Linked DNA regions of Homo sapiens: regions 2 and 3 are each linked to region 1. The links come from fine-mapping of genetic effects on gene expression. A gene starts in region 1. Each other region holds a variant in brackets. All regions are shown on one strand. Distances are between the middles of the regions. Region 1 holds the start of VRK2 (VRK serine/threonine kinase 2). Region 2 overlaps VRK2 (VRK serine/threonine kinase 2). Region 3 overlaps VRK2 (VRK serine/threonine kinase 2).

What was found. PIP is the estimated chance that this variant, and not a neighbour inherited with it, causes the effect.
Region 2: its variant is fine-mapped to the expression of VRK2 in blood mononuclear cells (TOPMed, PIP 0.97).
Region 3: its variant is fine-mapped to the expression of VRK2 in whole blood (INTERVAL, PIP above 0.99).

Annotation. Positions count from the first base shown.
Region 1 is chr2:58,043,948-58,049,895 of GRCh38, forward strand. VRK2 (VRK serine/threonine kinase 2) reads left to right here and starts at 2,859. Exons shown (of 13, transcript NM_006296.7): 1 at 2,859-2,921; 2 at 4,880-5,020. The coding sequence starts at 4,885. It overlaps LOC107984043 (formin-2-like), which reads right to left and starts at 3,286. Exons shown (of 3, transcript NR_171623.1): 1 at 2,577-3,286. RefSeq lists enhancers at 2,127-2,682, 2,572-2,691, 2,683-3,238 and a silencer at 2,842-3,111.
Region 2 is chr2:58,155,884-58,161,831 of GRCh38, forward strand. It overlaps VRK2 (VRK serine/threonine kinase 2), which reads left to right. Exons shown (of 13, transcript NM_006296.7): 13 at 3,466-3,988. The coding sequence ends at 3,810. It overlaps FANCL (FA complementation group L), which reads right to left. Exons shown (of 14, transcript NM_018062.4): 12 at 5,639-5,755; 13 at 4,225-4,296; 14 at 3,364-3,917. The coding sequence ends at 3,882. Among named protein-coding and RNA genes, the nearest start is that of FANCL, 82 kb to the right of the region's middle. The variant G/T (reference allele first, on the strand shown) is at 3,229.
Region 3 is chr2:58,147,586-58,153,533 of GRCh38, forward strand. The region is part of intron 12 of VRK2 (VRK serine/threonine kinase 2); the gene reads left to right. Among named protein-coding and RNA genes, the nearest start is that of FANCL, 91 kb to the right of the region's middle. The variant GT/G (reference allele first, on the strand shown) is at 2,977.

The sequences.
Region 1 (5,948 bases):
GGTTTCCAGCTTTTAAATTTTTTATACTTTATAAGTGCACACATTTAAAGATTATATAGAGTTTCTGCTAGGTTTTCTCTAAAAAGTTTGAGATTTAGATCTTGTATTTAGATTTAGCTGTATGATCAGTTTCAAGTAAATTTTTACATGGGGTGTGAATTAAGGGTTGAGGTTTCTTTCTTTCTTCTTTTTTTTGTATATATGGATGTCTAGCTGTTCTAACATTTGTTGAATATTCTGCCATTCCTGGGGCTTTAGATTAGTACTTTTTCCCATCTTTGTGGTCACACGATGACTGCAGCCATTTTAACCATCACATCAGAGACTATCTCTTCCAAGAATGTGTCCAGCAAACTTCTTTTCACCTCGTTACCTAGACTCAGCACATGCTTATTTTGTACTGTCTAAACCAATCATGGGAATTGGAATGGGGCCAGCATGGTTCATTTATTCATTGAAGAAGGAAATGGTTGCCCATATCCTTTCTAGGGGTTGGGGATACAGTAGTGACGAAAACAGGCAAAAATGTTGCCTGACCTCATGAAACATACAATTTACTGAAAAAGATTGTCTTTTGTCAAAATAAATAATAAACTGTATAATATATTGCTGTATAGCAGTAGGTACTGGGAAAAATACAGGGAAAGAGGCTACGAAATATTGTGGGTGAGCTGAAATTTCAGATAGGATGTTTAGGAAAGGTCTCACTGAACTGACTTTTAAATAAAGACCTGAAGGAAGTGATGGAGCAGTCTATACGGATACCAGGTTGGAGAGTGGTCCAGGTGGCAGTAAATGCGAAAAGTTCTTGAGAACAGCAGGCCACTGTGGTTGAAGAGAGTAATAGGACATTGGGGAGTGGGAGTGCATAATAGGTAGATCAGTGTTCTTTTCAACGACTGGCAATTTTGGCAAAATTTCGTCATGTTGGGGGATATTTTGGTTGTTAACTTGTGTGGGAGGGAGTGCTGAGGAGACCAGGGATACTGCTAAATATCCTACAATGCACAGGACAGCCTATCTCTCAATCCTCCTCCTTCTCCCAAACCCCCAACAAAGAATTATCCAGGCTGACTGTCAATAGTGCCCAGGTTGAGAAATGCTGTTTAAAGTCATAGCGAAGACTGGCTAATTGTGAGTAAATTGGAATAACACTGAATTGTTTTAAGCTCAGTAATTATTTAAGCGTTAAGGATCATGTGGCTGCTTGCTGTGAACAGACTAAAGGGATAAGAGGGTATAAAACATTTAGGAGGGTAATACAATTACCTAGAGAAAAAATATGGTTTGGGCCAGAATGCAGGTAAGGGTGCTAAGTGATAGATGCTGGATGTATTTTGAAGGTTGAGCCAACAGGATTTACTAACACTGGATACATGCCTGTAGGGAGAGGAACCACCTACAAGTAATCTGCTGTGGTTGCTACTGGAGTTGTTTCTTCTCAAAAGGGAGCCGGGGAAGTGGTGGAAAGCTAAACAAATTTGGAAAGGAGGAAAGAGTACCCAATATGGATATTAGGATTATTATGCATCTGTTACATAAATATCTGTAATTATGCATCTGTTATATAAATATCTTAAGAAAATAAGAAAGGACACTGTTGGACCAGTGAATGACTAAGGGCACAATTATTCTATGGACTGTTTCTTTAAAAATACTTTTTTGTTTGTTTTTAGAAACGTCTTCTCATGCCATCTTTCATTTTGGTGACAGTCTGAAAGATGTAGGGAGCCCCAATTCCTTATTCTATCAAAGTCATTAAAGGGCTCTAATTTTCCTTTCAGTATTTGTATCCCAACCAATTATTGGTGGTTACTATGTAGAATGCTGACGTATTAATAATCTTTGTCTAAGCATTTGTTTGGTTTAGTCTAAAATATAAGCTTACTATGAGTCTTTTTTTTCTTTCCTTCGAGACTGAGTTTCCCTCTTGCTGCCCAGGCTGGGGTGCAGTGGCGCGCTCTCTGCTCACTGCAATCTCTGCTTCCTGGGTTCAAGCGCTTCTCCTACCTCAGCCTGCCGAGTAGCTGGGATTACAGGCGTCCGCCACCACGCCTGGCTAATTTTTTGTATTTTTAGTAGAGATAGGGTTTCACCATGTTGGCCAGGCTGGTCTCAAACTCCTGACCTCAGATGATCCACCCGCCTCGGCCTCCCAACGTGCTGGGAGTACAGGCGTGAGCCACCGCACCTGGCCACTATGAGTCTTTATGTATTAGAAAACTGCTTAATAAAGTCCTCACCTTATTGTCATAATCTTATAACCAATAACCTTATAATCTAACAACAAGGGTTATTTCCATTTCACAGACAAAAAAACCTGAAGTTTGTTAATTACGGTGTTAAATTATCCTACGATTAATGGCAGAAATAGGTCCTGAACCAATATGCCTTTGAGAACTTAAACGCGGTGAGTTACATACAGGCCCTCCTAACTGGAGTCTTCGCTAGTACCAATAGTTAGTTGCTCGGCGAGAGCTCGGTAAGGACTAGCCATTTGGAAGCTCGTAGTACTCAGGTTGTGGTACAGGAGATCTAACACTCCTACACAAATGCATGTCGTGCTTATTTCGTACCAAACTGGTCTGGCGGCGGTTCTTCGTCCAGACGCTGGCGGGCCAGGGTGGAGGTAGTAACACAGCTCCCATTCCCCATGTAGCCGCGCCCTCTCCTTCCCCTGGGCGTCTCCGGGGCGTGGACAGGCCGCTGAAAGGAACCGGCTGCGGCCTGTGTGAGGCTCCGCGGGCCGCTGCACTGCGAGGCCGACGCAGCTGGAGAGAAGTTAGGCAGGTCCTAGGGAGGGCAGGCTCGAGTGCTGGGCCCGCCTCCCCGCGGGACTGTAGGCCCGGGGGCTCCGCCTCGTCGCAGCGGCAGGTAGGAGGCGGTGCGCGCGGCCCGGCGACGGGGGATCCTGAGGCCCGGTCAGTCTCTTGCTCTGGGGTCTTGGGTGGCGGGCGGCACCTCCGCTTGCAGTGCCGGAGCCGCGGCCCCGCTCGGAAAAGGGCTGCCGTCGGAGTTAGATGCCGGGGACTCCGGGCCGTCCCAGCCCCCGGGCCTCAGCTCCGGCCCGGGCAGAGTCGCTGCTTCCGCGTTTGGTTCTTTTTTCCCCGCTGGGAGTGAGAACAAGGCGTCCCCTTCTACTCACGTTTGCCAAAAGCGGGTCCGACGTGTTAGCGGAAAAGTGGGTGGAGTTTCTCTTTTTGCCGGTGCAGAGAGAACTTGTGGCGGGAAGTTGGGGCGCGGGGTTGGCCGTAGGTCCCCGGCGTGCTAAGGGCGGACGGACCAGGCGGCTGGGCCGCGCTGCTTCTCGTTACCTTCCGCAGGGTCAGGGGCCGCGGCGGGGTTGGAGGTCAGCCCAGGCACATGTTAACCCCTGGGTACCAGTTTGCTCGGAAACTCGTGTTGAGGACTCATCTTAGCCCTGGGAAGGTACCCAGAAGCCGAAGGGACACCCCTGACAGGGACGGGCCCTGAGAGGCTGTCGTTTCCCTTGGCAGATGAACTCGGGACTCGCCCCCAGGATGTACATTTCGTAGAGTCTCCCTTACCGCCTCAAGCCCTGAGGCCGCTGCCTTGCCCCAAAGTGTATTTATCTTTTTTATAATTATTTAGAATTTATTCCTTAATCAGTAGTTTACACTTTGGAGACTTTAAGTTTTAAATCAGTAAATCTGTAATAGGCACCAGCCTATATAATGTACTGGTCAAGGGAAACCTCCACAAAAACTTTTCCTGCTTTATGATACAATCAATGCTCTAGGCATAGTTCACCATCCAAATTCCCAGCCCTTGTGTGCCTATCAGGAGGAAGGTGAATATTGTTAAAGATACACGCAGCGACTCTACCTGGGACAATACTGCTAAGTAAAAAAGCAGTTAAGTGAAGGAGGAAAAACCCGTTAAAGGAAAAACAGATACTTTCTTTTATGGAAGCTAGGAAGATTATATTAAGAAAACTTTACATTTACGTATATACGTTTTTAATTAACTTTCATGTCAGAAACTCTTAATAGTTTTAAATACTTAGAGGATCATGGTTACCTTCACATTTAAATTATTTTCAGGCATGTATGCTGGCATATGTATTTTCCCCTAAGAAATTTTCTCTTTTAACTCAGAATTTCCCATTGAGAAATTTGCTAACCTATGTACAATTATAATTAGTTGATTAAAGTTGCATGGCTGTGCTGTGGAGATTATGCTTTTGTTGTTGGTGGCACAGTTGTAATCTCTAAGGCAGGACTGTTTTCACTGTGATAAACTGAGAAAGAGGGTAAGAAGACAAAATGCTGAGAATATTTTGGCAGCCCGAGAACTGATGGCCTAGTATTCTGCTAAGTTACATATCCGTGAAAATCCCTGGCTCATTTAACAAATGTTTACTGAGTACCTAGTATCACGGTGGTGAGATGTCCATTGCCATTGTCTGTGTCTTCCCAATCCAATCCTGTGTTCTTTTCTAGTGACTGAAGACCTTCTCACTTTTAACATTTTACATTCTCAGTGACAGCAATATTTCCATGTACATGAAATTTATTTTCTTTCTTCATTGGAAATTGTTAATTTCGTGTTTCTTAAGGTGTGTCCTGCACTGTTAATATGTGCTATAGAACCCCGAAATGAATTTTGGATGAAATTTGGTTAGTTTGCTTCTGTTTTTTTAAAATATCTATACCTCTTAGATCTCAGTATTGTAATGTATGTGAATTTCTAATTTGAATATAATGTGTGGGCTTTTCCAAACTGAATTAACTTTAGAATCCTAATTTCTGGGAACCTGGGAAAGTTCCCTATTGAAGACATTTTGGGAAGTGTATTTTAAGAGTTTTGTTTGTTTGTTTTTCTTTTTACCCATTTATCTCACCCCTTCTGCCAACAGAAGTGATGCCACCAAAAAGAAATGAAAAATACAAACTTCCTATTCCATTTCCAGAAGGCAAGGTTCTGGATGATATGGAAGGCAATCAGTGGGTACTGGGCAAGAAGATTGGCTCTGGAGGATTTGGATTGATATATTTAGGTAAAGTAAAACCTTAAATTAACAATTATTCTTATATCTGTGACTGTAACCGTGATTACTTAGTGGTATTTTAAGAATGGAAATATGGAATTCATATGTGTACTTTATTAAAATTCATGATTGTACTCGATTAAGTAATAATAGAGTACAGTGTCTAGGTTCAAGACATCACTGACCCACTCCTTGTTGTCCATGTTTTTCTGAGTAAATCTTAGAAGTCTTTTTAGAGCATAATTATACAATCTGCCAGACAAAATGCTAACTTTCTTTTTTTTTGAGAGCTTGTTTTCTTAGAAACATGCTTTTTTCAGATGAGAAACCACAACTGTATAGATAAAAACACTTTCTGTTTGTGAATCTTAATCAATATTTAGGCAATACAAGAGTCTAGTCATTTCTTAATTGGGCTCTACTGGAGAATTCATAGATAAAACTTAAGGCATCTATTCTGTGAAATGAATTAACTTCTCTCTCGTGCATCTAGAGTGGTCCCTAGGGATGTGCCATTCTTGGGATAATTGAAAAAATAAACACTCAAAATTATTTTCTGTGATCTGTGGTACAGGTAAGGAACCATGGGCTGGATAGGCCTTTACATTGCATTTAAGCATTTAAAAATTACACTGAACTTTAATGGATCATTGAGTTGGAATGAGGAGGGGATATCCATTAAAAGATTGATTAATAAAATAAGGAAAATAGTAGTGATTTTTAAAAATATACCCTCAAGGATAAATTCTCCTAAATGTACTCACTTGAGACTTGAGATCACATCTATTTCTATAGGAGATTAAGGAGTTGATAAAATACCTCCGTTGAGGGAATCTTGGGTTCTCATCACATATTTCCAGAAAAACATGCTTCATGGATCCTGAAATATAAAAGATCCTCTTCTGATAAAATTAAGATTGTAGTTTTGAATGAATGA
Region 2 (5,948 bases), 110 kb after region 1:
AGGGCTATTGGTTACATAGAGCATGTTTTTCATGTTTGTTTTTTTTTTTTTCCAGTCTGTGCATATTGCTGTTTCCAGAACGCAGGCTCTTTTATGGCCCAGGCTGGGGTAATAGGAGGTACTAAAGTACATGGCGGGTGGAGACTCAAGGGAGGGTCATTTTTAGAATTTTCAGTGTTTTGATAGGTGCTTTTTGTCCACTCTTTAATTACCAGAATAAGGTGGGATGCTTACTCTTTCTTGTCTATAACTGGATGCCCCTCACTTTGATTTTGAAAGCTTCATTGAATATGGAATCTATTCTTTCAGAACTTTAAAAAGGATGTTTCCATCTTCATAGGTCTGTTTTTTTTTCTGCTAAGAAGTTAGCAGTTATTCTTATTGGCCCATTTATAATGTATTTCTTTCTGTGGCTTTCAAGATTTGCTTGTTATTTTTGGTTTTGTAAGGATGGCTGTCTTTTGTTTATTGTGCTTTGGGTTCGTAGAGCTGCTTTTATCTGTGGGTTGATATTTGTCTTCAAATTGGAAAGGTTTTGTATGATTTCATCAATTTGTTTCATGCCTTAATCTCTCTTATTTCTCTGAGTTCCAAATACATGCATGTTAGAATACTTTACCTTTTTCATAGGCAGCTAAATAACTATTTTTTTAAATCAGTCTTTTATGTTGCTGTACCTCAGGTTGGGTGGTGGTGTTTTTTTTGTTTTGTTTTGTTTTGTTTTGTTTTGTTTTTGCCTGACCTCTAGTTGATTGTCAAATCAGCTGTTAAACCTAGCCAATGAATTTTTCATGTTATACCCTGTATTTTTCAGTTCCACAAGTATATTTCTTTGTATGTTGAGATTCCACCTCCCCCATATCTGTTCATTAATTATGTTCAACTTTAATTCCTTGAACATATTTATGTAGATGTTTTATAGTCCTTGTTTGATAATTGTACCATCTGGATCAGCCCTGAATCTCTGTTAATTTTTTCTCCTGGTTATGGGTCACATTTCCTGCATCTCATTTGTAGTAGTTTTATTGTATACTGAACATTGTGGATGCTGTGGTCTTTAGACTCCAGATTTTATTGCATTCCTTTAAAGAGTTTTGAGGTTAGTTCTGGCAGACAGTTAACTTACTGGTGACTAAACCTGATCATTTTATAAGTTCTGTTCAGGCTTTTTTGGCCTAGTCTGCAGTAAATCTTAAATTGTGGCCTTTCTTAGGTCTGTGTTATTTTCCCTTCCTGAGCTTTGTTTTAGATCCCTAAGTTATTTCACATATTTTGACTAATTTTGTTTTCTATTATTTATTTATGGGTTTTCACAGCAGAAGGGGAAGTCTGGTATCAGATTTTCATGGCCAGAGTGGAAGTAGTGTTGCTATTTTTCATAGCTTCCCAGTCGATTCTGATGTGCATTCAAAGTTAATAACTATTCTAATGTAGGGTTTCTTGACAGCTGCACTGTTGACATTTGGGAGCTGAGCTGTTATTTGTTGTGGGGGTGCTGTCCTGTGATGTAGGATGTTTCGCATCATTCCTAGTACTTATCTACTAGGTGTCAATAGTATCTCCTCCTAGCTGTAACAACCCAAAATGTCTCCAGAAATTGCTAAATGTCCTCTGTGGGGCAGGATCAACCCAGGCTGAGAACCAATGCTCTATCACAGTAGATTATTGCATTGCCTTGAGCCCTTTGCTACTCAAAGTGGGGTGTGCAGACCAGCTGTATTGGCATCATCTGGAGCTTCTCAGAAATACAGAATCTCAGGTCATACTCCTAGACCTTTTGAATGAGATCTGCATTTTAACAAGTTATGATGATCTGTTTGCTTTCTAATACTCGAAGAATAATGCCGTAGAGCAGGGGTCAGCAAACCTTTTCTTAAAAGGCCAGAAAGAAAATATTTTCAGTTTACTTTCCATACAGTTTTTGTCAGAACTATTCAACAATGCCATTGTAGTGCAAAAGCCCACATAGACAATACATAAACAAATTGATGTGGCTCTGTTCCAATAAAACTTTATTCACAAAACAGGCAACTAGCCAAGCCAAATTTTGGCAACTCCTGTTATAGACTATCCTAATCAGACCCCCTCAGTGTACTGAAGACAACAGGTGGTTAAATTCTTTGATGAGTGCCTTGCCATATGATGTCATTTGCTGATGTTCAAGAGAGATTAAGTGTATAGATTACACAGTAGATGATTCTGGAAATTATAGTAGCTTGACTTCTATCCTTACCTAAGTGGAGATATCTCCCAGCCTTGCACATGTGAGCTATATGTAAATGCTGCTCTATGATTTGATAGCATAATTATTATTTGTATTATGCTTTATAGGCCTACTGGAATAATTATTCACTTATTTTGACTTTAGTTAATAAAGCTGACAAACTTATGAAAAACTGCATTAATGTGACTTCGTTAGCTCAGAAAGAGTAGTTTAAAATGAGTTATTTAACTCTAAAGTGAGTCATTTAACTCTCAAGTAATTTTTTTTCATAGGAAAGCTAGTAGTTTTTAAAACATCCTTTGTTTTATGTAGGACTCCTTTCTGACACTTCCAAAACTCTGTATCTAGAAAGGGGAGGGCTGTTTGTTTGAAGGGTGGCAGTTTAAAGGTTGAGAAGGTAGTAGCTATTCTGAGAATGATGGACAGTGAACAAGCTTAAAGTATTTTGCTTTGTTTTATAAATTTCTTCTCTTCTAAGTTAGTTACTTGATAAATGGTGCTGAGGGGGCATGCCAGATGTCACCAAAGCAAAGCAGAAAAACTCGACTTTCAGCCAGTTAAGTGGTGATCAGGAAACTGATTCCTGGGACTTTGGCCAACAGGAATGATGAAAACATAGAAGTAGCTCCCGAAACTTGCATAAGTAACCAGTTAATTTGTTTTATATTAATACCACTTAATTTGCTTTATATTAATATCTATTCGGTCTATACTGGTTCGTCTGTATAGCTTTCCAAGAGACATAACACTATAGCTACCCCTGAGGCAGTTTTCTTTGGCTGTGTACAGCCTCATCCTTTGCCCACTGTACAGTGGACACTTCTCAGTTGCCATGGAATCAGAAGGTAAAGAAAGAATCACATTAATGACCAAAATATTTCTAATTATGGCTATCTTACCCCCTTAAGATTAAGCCCAATTTTTTGGTTTTGCCAAGAAAATTCAGTTTTCATATTCTATCCTATTTATTTTTAGATTATAAATTACTTAAGAGATGGCCTACT[G/T]ACGTGGTTTAAAAGAACCACTCAAATTATATCCAGATTTGCTTGTTGGATGTTTATAAACTCTTAAAAAGTGTAAATCTTTAAGATCTTTACCTAAAAATTACTTCTCAGGAAAAATAACACGCAAAAACTTGATCTTGTATAACATTTTATTTAGCATTCTTACACACTACACAAAATAAATACTTGGATAACTCACGTCTAACAAACTAAACTATATATGTATTTTTTCCATAGGAAAGCACAAGGAGAAGACAGAAATATCAAGAGTCTCAAGAACCTTTGAATGAAGTAAACAGTTTCCCACAAAAAATCAGCTATACACAATTCCCAAACTCATTTTATGAGCCTCATCAAGATTTTACCAGTCCAGATATATTCAAGAAGTCAAGATCTCCATCTTGGTATAAATACACTTCCACAGTCAGCACGGGGATCACAGACTTAGAAAGTTCAACTGGACTTTGGCCTACAATTTCCCAGTTTACTCTTAGTGAAGAGACAAACGCAGATGTTTATTATTATCGCATCATCATACCTGTCCTTTTGATGTTAGTATTTCTTGCTTTATTTTTTCTCTGAAGATGATACCAAAATTCCTTTTGATAATTTTTTAAGTTTCCAGCTCTTCACCGAAATGTTGTATTCTTATTTCAGTGTTTCCTTCCAGACATTTTTAAGGTAATTGGCTTTAAAAAGAGAACATATTTTAACAAAGTTTGTGGACACTCTAAAAAATAAAATTGCTTTGTACTAGAAATAGTGTCATAGAATAGTGTCATAGTACAGTTTGGAAAACACTTCTGAAGTTTCAGATCACCTAGGAAATCTAGAAAAGGAGTTTAATGTTTTTGATCAGAGAATTTGAAAAATAGAAATACAGAGAATGAGTTTCAAAAGTTTTAGATAAACTGATATACTATATAGATCTATCTTCTAGAACATATTACTGAAAGCTAGGCACATTTTATGAGATGTGATTAACAATTTGCTTACCTTACTACAATATGGACATTCACCAAATATGATGTTAAAACTCTGTCTACTAGTTAGTAGTCCTCTCAGCCACTGCAAATTTTAAAAGATAAAGGAGAAGCGTCAGCATGATTACAAATTACAGATACTCCAAATGTCATTCCCTTTGTTTTTAAGTGCATTATGTTTTTATTCCAGAAGACTTAGCTTAATTTTGTTTTGCAAGAGTAAGGGATGTATTTCCTGAGCCAATAGCAGACTATTAAGATGTTGAGTAACAAGGGAAATCAACATGGAATTGAAGGCCTAAACCACTGGTTTATAACCAGATTATGGGCCCCTTTAAGAATCTGATAAGAATTACGCATTTTCTTTATCCCCAGAATAGACATACATAAAAATAATGCATACTAAGTTCCTGGCATTCATAGACTTTCCCTAAATCCATTAATCACAAATTAACAACTCCTGCTGTTAAAGATACTACAGGCTCTTGAAAATTTCCCTCTTAGTTCTGGTCTGAATCACTAACAGTGGGTTAATTTTCAACCCATTGATTATAAGCATGAGCCAGTGAATTTTTAAAAATTAAATGAATATTCATAATTACAAAAGAAATCACATGTTCCCTTAGAGTATTTCTGTAATTTGACCTGTATTTCTGTAATTTCATGATTTTATATAAGGTAAATAGATGCCTCTGCCTAAGTTCTCCATTGGCAAAGTACAGACGGCACCAACTGCTACCTCTAATCACAAAAGTAAAGATGTGATATTAAGGAAGACTGAAACCGAAGGCAACATACAATTGCAAGGTGTTCTGTATATAGTTACACACAGTTTATCATGTATCAACTAGGCCCTAAGGTGAAGCCAGGCACTAAAGACAGGAATGAAAGTAGACTTCACATACAGTAAGTAAAGTGGCATTGCCTGAGTGCTGTGAGACTCAGATCACAAAAGGCATTCTTCTCAACATGAAAAGTAGTAGTATTGGATATATTCTATTCTTAAATGCAGCCTGAAAAGTAATAGATACTACATAGTACTAATTTCATTTTCACTGTATTACTGCCACTTTCAACCACCTCCACCTCGGGTAAACCTATGAAGCTTACATTGTGGTAACAAGGAATTTATAGAAAGATTCCAATGTACCATCAATTTAATTTGTTATGTGTCAATAAGCTAGTCCATGAATATATTCTGGATAGATTTTCTCCCTTGGATACTTCAGAACATTTCTCCACTCATTAGTAACTGTGATGAAGAAATGAAGCACATAAGCATCTGGAATAAACTGGTAAAAGGAGTTAATGGCAAAAGAGAGGATCACTATTGACTCAACAGATTTTAGATTCTGTGTATTTCAAACAGGAATACTTCCTATGTTGTGTTAGCGGAAAAAAGTCTTGACAATATTTTTATTTTTTACCTCATATAAGCATATTTGATGGAAAGGTTGTCCACACTGAGAATTATCACACACTTGATCAGGAATGGTACCGTCAAGTTGATAAGCATAACAAATTCCACAATCCATAGTAAAATCCTTCAAAAGAAAAATATTTATAAAAAGCGTATGTGTCTCACTAACTTATTCGTTGTACATATTTGGGAGGGTATGTGTGATATTTTGATACATGTATACAGTGTTTAATGATGACATCAGGATAATTAAGATATTCATCACCTCAACATTTACCTTTTATGTTGGGAACATTACAATTCTTCTAACTACTTTA
Region 3 (5,948 bases), 100 kb after region 1:
GATTCCTTTTTGGCTGTGGTGGCAATGAGATACGTATATATAGATTTTATCACTTTGGAAAGTCTTGGTTCTTTTCCCTAGTCAGTCCTCTTCCCCCAGGGAATGTTCTGCCATTTTGATTCTCATCACTAGATTAGATTTGCCTCTTCTAGAATTTCATAAACATGCAGTCATATAGTATGCATTCATTTGGGCCTGGCTTCTTTCACTCAGTGTTTTTTTTTTTTTTTTGAGATTTATCCATGTTCATGCATGTATTAGTAATTTGTTTTTTCCATTGCTGAACAGCACTCCATTGTATAACTATATCATAGTTCACATGTCCATTGTGTAACTACATCATAATTCACAAGGCCATTCTCCTATTAATGGACATTTGGGCTACTACTCATTTCTGGCCACCATGAATATAGTTGCTACAAACATTCTGGCACAAATCCTTCAATGGACATGTTTCATTTCTCCTGAGATGTAGAATTGCTGGGTCGTAGGGCAGGTGTATGTTCAATTTTATAAAGAGCTGACAAATAGTTCTTGAAAGTACCATTCTGTACTCCCACCAGTAATGTACAAGAGTTCTGGCCATTCCATGTCCTCCCCAATATTTGGTATTGTCACTCTTTTTAATTTTAGCCTTTCTAACATGTGTATTAGTGTATTATTGCGTTTCCAATTATTCACCTGATGTCTAATTAAGTTTGAGCACTTTCACGTTTTTACTGACCTTTCATATATCTGTTCTTACAAAGTTTCTTTGTCGAGTGTTCTAATTTTTATTTGGATATTTGTCTTTTTATTGTTAAGCCACAGGAGTCCTTATCAGATATCTGTATTATGGATATCCTCTCCTAGCATGCGGCCTGCCTAATCATTTAATTCATAGTATCTTAGGATGTGCAGAAGCTTTTTATATTATTTGTTTTTTTATTTGAAGTTCAATTTATCAATATTTTAATAGTTTTTTTGTCGTTTGTTTGTTTTTCTGTAAAGATACCTAAGAAACCTTTGCCTACCTCAAGGTCACAAAGTTATTTTGCTATATATTTCTATACAAGGCTCATGGTTTTAGCTTTCATTGTTGGTTCTATGAGCCATCTCAAATCAATTCATGTGTATTGTGTGAGGTGGAGGTTGAGGTTCTCTTTTTCATATAGTTTGCACCATCATTTATTGAAAAGATGTTCCTAATGAATTTCTTTGGAGCCCTTTTCAAAAGTCAGCTAACTGTGTGTGTGAGCCTATTTCTGGGCTCTATTTTCTTCTATTCTACTTGTCTCTCCTTACACCAACACCACACTGCATCAATTACTGTCGCTTTACAGCAAGTTCTGAAATTAGAATAGTTCTTTAATCCTTTTATTTTCTTTCAAAAATGTATTGGCCATTTTAGGTCCTAGTCTCCTCCATAAAATTTAAGAAGCAGCTTGTTAGTTTCCACCAAAAAATGCACAATGGGATATTGACTGGGAGTACATTAAGTGTAAAGATGAGTTTATGGAGAACTGGCATCCCAACAATGTCGACTCCTCCAGTGCATAAACCTGGTACTTCTCTGCATTTATGTGGAACTTCTCTGCATTTATGTGCATTTTCTTTAACTTCTCTCAACAGTGTTTTGTAGTTTTTAGTGTAGATGTCTATACATCTTCCATTAAAATTATCTCTAAATATTTTTGATCCCATTTTAAGTAGTAATTTTCAAAATTTCATATTCCAGTTATTTGTTGCTGGTATATAGAAATAGAATTTATTTTCTATTTCTATATCAGTTATATTTGATATACAATATAATCATGTGTCTTGGGATCTTTCTAAATGTACTTATTAGTTCCAATAGGTTTTATTATTTTTTAAATAGATTCTTAGGACTTTCTACATAGTTAATGATGTCTGTGAATAGAGACAGTTTTACCTCTTCCTTTCCAATATATGCCCTTTATTTATTTTTTATCGTTGTCTTATTACATCTGCTAGCAGCTCTAGTATTACGTTGAATAGAAGTTGTGACAGTGGCCATCCTTGCTTGGTTCCTGATCTTAGGGGGAATGCATTCATTCTTTCACCATTAAGTTAGCTGTTGATTTTTTCTAAATGCCCTTTATCAGGCTGAGGAAATTTCACCATATTTGTTGAAAAATAAATGTAAATAATGAATATTAAATACTGTTTTGAGATCTTTTGAGATGATCACATGATTTTTTCCCTTTACTAGTACGATGAATTACACTGATTTTTAAATGTTAAATCAACCTTTTATTTCTGGGATAAACCTCCAGTTAGGCATGATGTGTTTTCCTGCTGAATTCTGTTTGCTGAATTCCAACTCAATTCCTGCTGAATTTCAGTTCCATGGAAGGTTTTTATACCTAGACTGATGAGGGATACTGGTCTGTAATTTTCTTTTTCTTTTCTTTTTTTTTTTTTTTTTTGCAAAGTGAAAGCAAGTTTATTAAGAAAGTAAAGGAATAAAAGGATGGCTACTTCACAGAGCAGCTGTAATTTTCTTTTGTCGTAATATCCTTGTATGGTTTTGTTTTCAGGGTCATTATGAATTATACCAGTTGGAAGTGTTGCACTCTGTTTTCAGAAAATGTTTTTGTAAGATTTGCCTTTCTTAAATGTTGGATAGAATTGAGCAAGAAAACCATCGGGGCTGATAATTTGTTGTAGGAAATTTTTTAACTGCACATTTACTTTCTATAATATATAGAGTGATCATTAGATTTTTTTTCTTGGGTCAGTTTTATATTTGTATTTTTCAAAGAATTTGTCCATCTCATCTAAGTTTTCAAATTTATCAGCACTAAGTTAGGATATTCTTTATTTTCCCTTTATCATCACCAATATCTATATTGATGTCCCTCTTTCAGTTCTGATAATGGTAACTTTTGGTTTCTTTCTTTTTTTAGTAGTCTAGCTAAGGGCTTATCATTTTCATTGATCTTCTCAAAGACCAGCTTTGGTTTTTTTTTTTTA[GT/G]TTTTTTTTTTTTTCAAAGACCAACCTTTGGTTTTGTTGATTTTTTTAAAAAAACCTACCATTGATATGTTTTCTGTTTCACTAATTCTTTATCATTTGCTTGATTCTACTTATTTTGCATTTAATTTATTCTTTCAAGCTTCATAAGGTGAAAGTTTAAATCACTAATTTTTTCCTTCATTTTTTTTCTAACGTATATAGTTAAACCTATAAATATGTAAGCTGTGCTTTGGCTGTCTATTTCACAAATTTTGATGTGTTGTGTTTTCATTATTAATCAGTTCAATGTATTTTCTAATGTCCCTTGATTTATTTGACCCATGGATTATTTATTAGTATGTTATTTAATTCCTAAGTATTTTTAAGGTTTACTGGGTATCTTTTTTGTTATTGATTTCTAATTTAATTTTGCTGTCATCAGAACACATCCTGTATTATTGCAATCTTTTAAAATTCACTGAAACTTATTTTGTCACCAAGGAAAAGGCCTAGTTTAGTGAATGTTCCTTGTATACTTATGAAGTTTGGGGTTGTTTAATAGTGTTCAAATCTTATATATTCACTGTTTTATTTTGTCCTCGTTTTATCATTTAATGACAAAGGAATGTTACAATCACCAACTGTAATTGTGAATTTATCCATTTGTCTCTTCTATACATTTTTGCTTCTATACATTTTTGCTTCATAGATTTTGATGCTGTTATTAGGTATATGCAGATAGTAGTTATATGTTCTTGGTTAACTGTCCTGTTCATCATTCTGAAATATCTTTCTTTATATCTATTAAATACTCTATCTTGAGTTCTACTTCATCTGACTTTTAACAATTCCAGCCTTCCTATGATTAACATTTATACATTGTATCCATTTCCATCCTTTGTTTAATCCACTTGTGTCTTTTTATCTGTGGCTTTTGTAACTAGCATATAGTTGAGCCTCGCTATTTTATAAAATCTGGCAAACACTATCTTTTATTTGCTCCATATCTATTTCATGTAACTATATTTGCTCCATTTCCATTTGAGGTAACTATTGATATAGCTGGGTTTAATCTACCATTATGCAGTTTGCTTTCTTTTTGCCCCATTTGTTCTTTGTCCCTTTTTACCTCCCTCTTGCTTTATTTTGGACTGATTGAGAATTTTTTTTTAACTATGCTTCTATGCTTGTTTTTTTTTTTTTTTTTTTTTTTTTTTTTTTTTTTTGGTGGTCACTCTAGAGCAAGGGGTCAGTCAGCTCCATAGCCTATGGGCCAAATTCAGCCAACCACCTATTTTTGTAAATAGTTTTATTGGAACATAGCCATACTCATTCACTTACATATTGTATTTGATTGCTTTTGTTCCATAGTGGCAGAGCTAACTGCAACAGAGACTGTATGGTCAAAAAAGCCTAAAATATTTACTCTCAGGCATTTTACAAAACAAGTTTGCAAATCCCTGCTCAGCACAATCCTGCCTAACAGAAATATAATGCAAGCCACATATGCAATTTAAAAAATTCTACTAACCACATTTCAAAAAGTAAAAAGAAACAGGTAGAATCTATTTTAATAACGTCCTCTGATTAAACCAGTATCCACAATGGTATAATCAGAATAATATTACTGAGATACTTACATCTTTTTCTAAAGTCTTCAAAATTTGGTGTCTATTTTATAGTAACAGCACATCTCAATTATAACTAGCCATATTTCAAGTGGTCAAGTCATATTAGACAGCGTGGCTCTAGAAATTACCATGTGCACATTTAACTGATCATATTACATTCTATCTTGACTTAATGTGTAAGAACCTTAAAAATATATACTTCCCTTTATCCCTCATCCTTTGTGCTATTGTTGTTATACGTTTTGCTTTTACATGTGTAATATATTTCAGAATGCATTGGTATTGTTGCTTTAAGGAGCCATTTTTCATTTTAAAAAAATTAAGAAAGGAAAAGGAAAAAAAGTCTTAACATATCCCAGTATTTACAGTTACTGAAATTCTTTATTCCTTCAATAGATCTTAGTTTGGTATAATTTCTCTTCAGCCTGAACAAATTCCTTTAACATTTATCATAGTATATATTTCCTGGAATCTAATTCTGTCACCTCTTGTCTGTCTGAAAATATTTGTATTTCACCTGCATTTTTTTTTGTAGTGGTGGATTTATATTTTATTTCTGCATTTTTTTAACAGTTTATTTTGAAGTAACTGTAGACTCCGAAATTGCAAAAATACATACAGCCTCCCTATACCCTTACCTACCCTTTCACCCAACTCCTGCAAATGAAAACATTTTACATAACCATAATATAATTTTACAAAGCAGGAAATTGACATTCATATACTACCATAAAATACAGACCTTATTAGGATATCACCAATTTTGACATGTACTCGTGCATGTCTGTGTTCCTTAGATATTTTATAACATGTATGGAGTAACCACCACAATTATCCTGCAGACCTGTTCCATGACCACGTAGGAATTGCTCATGCTATAGTGACACTCTCTTCCCAATCCTAATCCTCAGAAAGCAGTGGGTTTATTCTGCATCACTGTAATTTTATCATTTTGAGTGTATCATATAAATCAAATCTTATGATATGTAACTTGTTGAGAATGGCTTTGTTTCATTCGTCATCATGCCCTTGAGATCGATCCAAGTTTTGTGTACATGAGCAGTTCATTCCTTTTTATTGCTCAGTAGTAATCTGAAGTATGGATATACCATTGAAGAACATTTGGTTTCTTTCCAGTTTTTGTCCATTCACTATTCAGTAGGTTAGCTGTAGACATTTTTATAGATGTTCTGTATAAAGTTGAGGAAGCTCCCCTCCATTTCTAATGTACTAAGAGTTTTCATCATGAATAGGTGCTGAATATTGTCAAATGCTTTTTCTGTATCAATTAATATGATCATGTGATTTTTCTTCTTTAGACTGTTACCATAGTGGATGACACTGGTTTGTGGTTGAATATT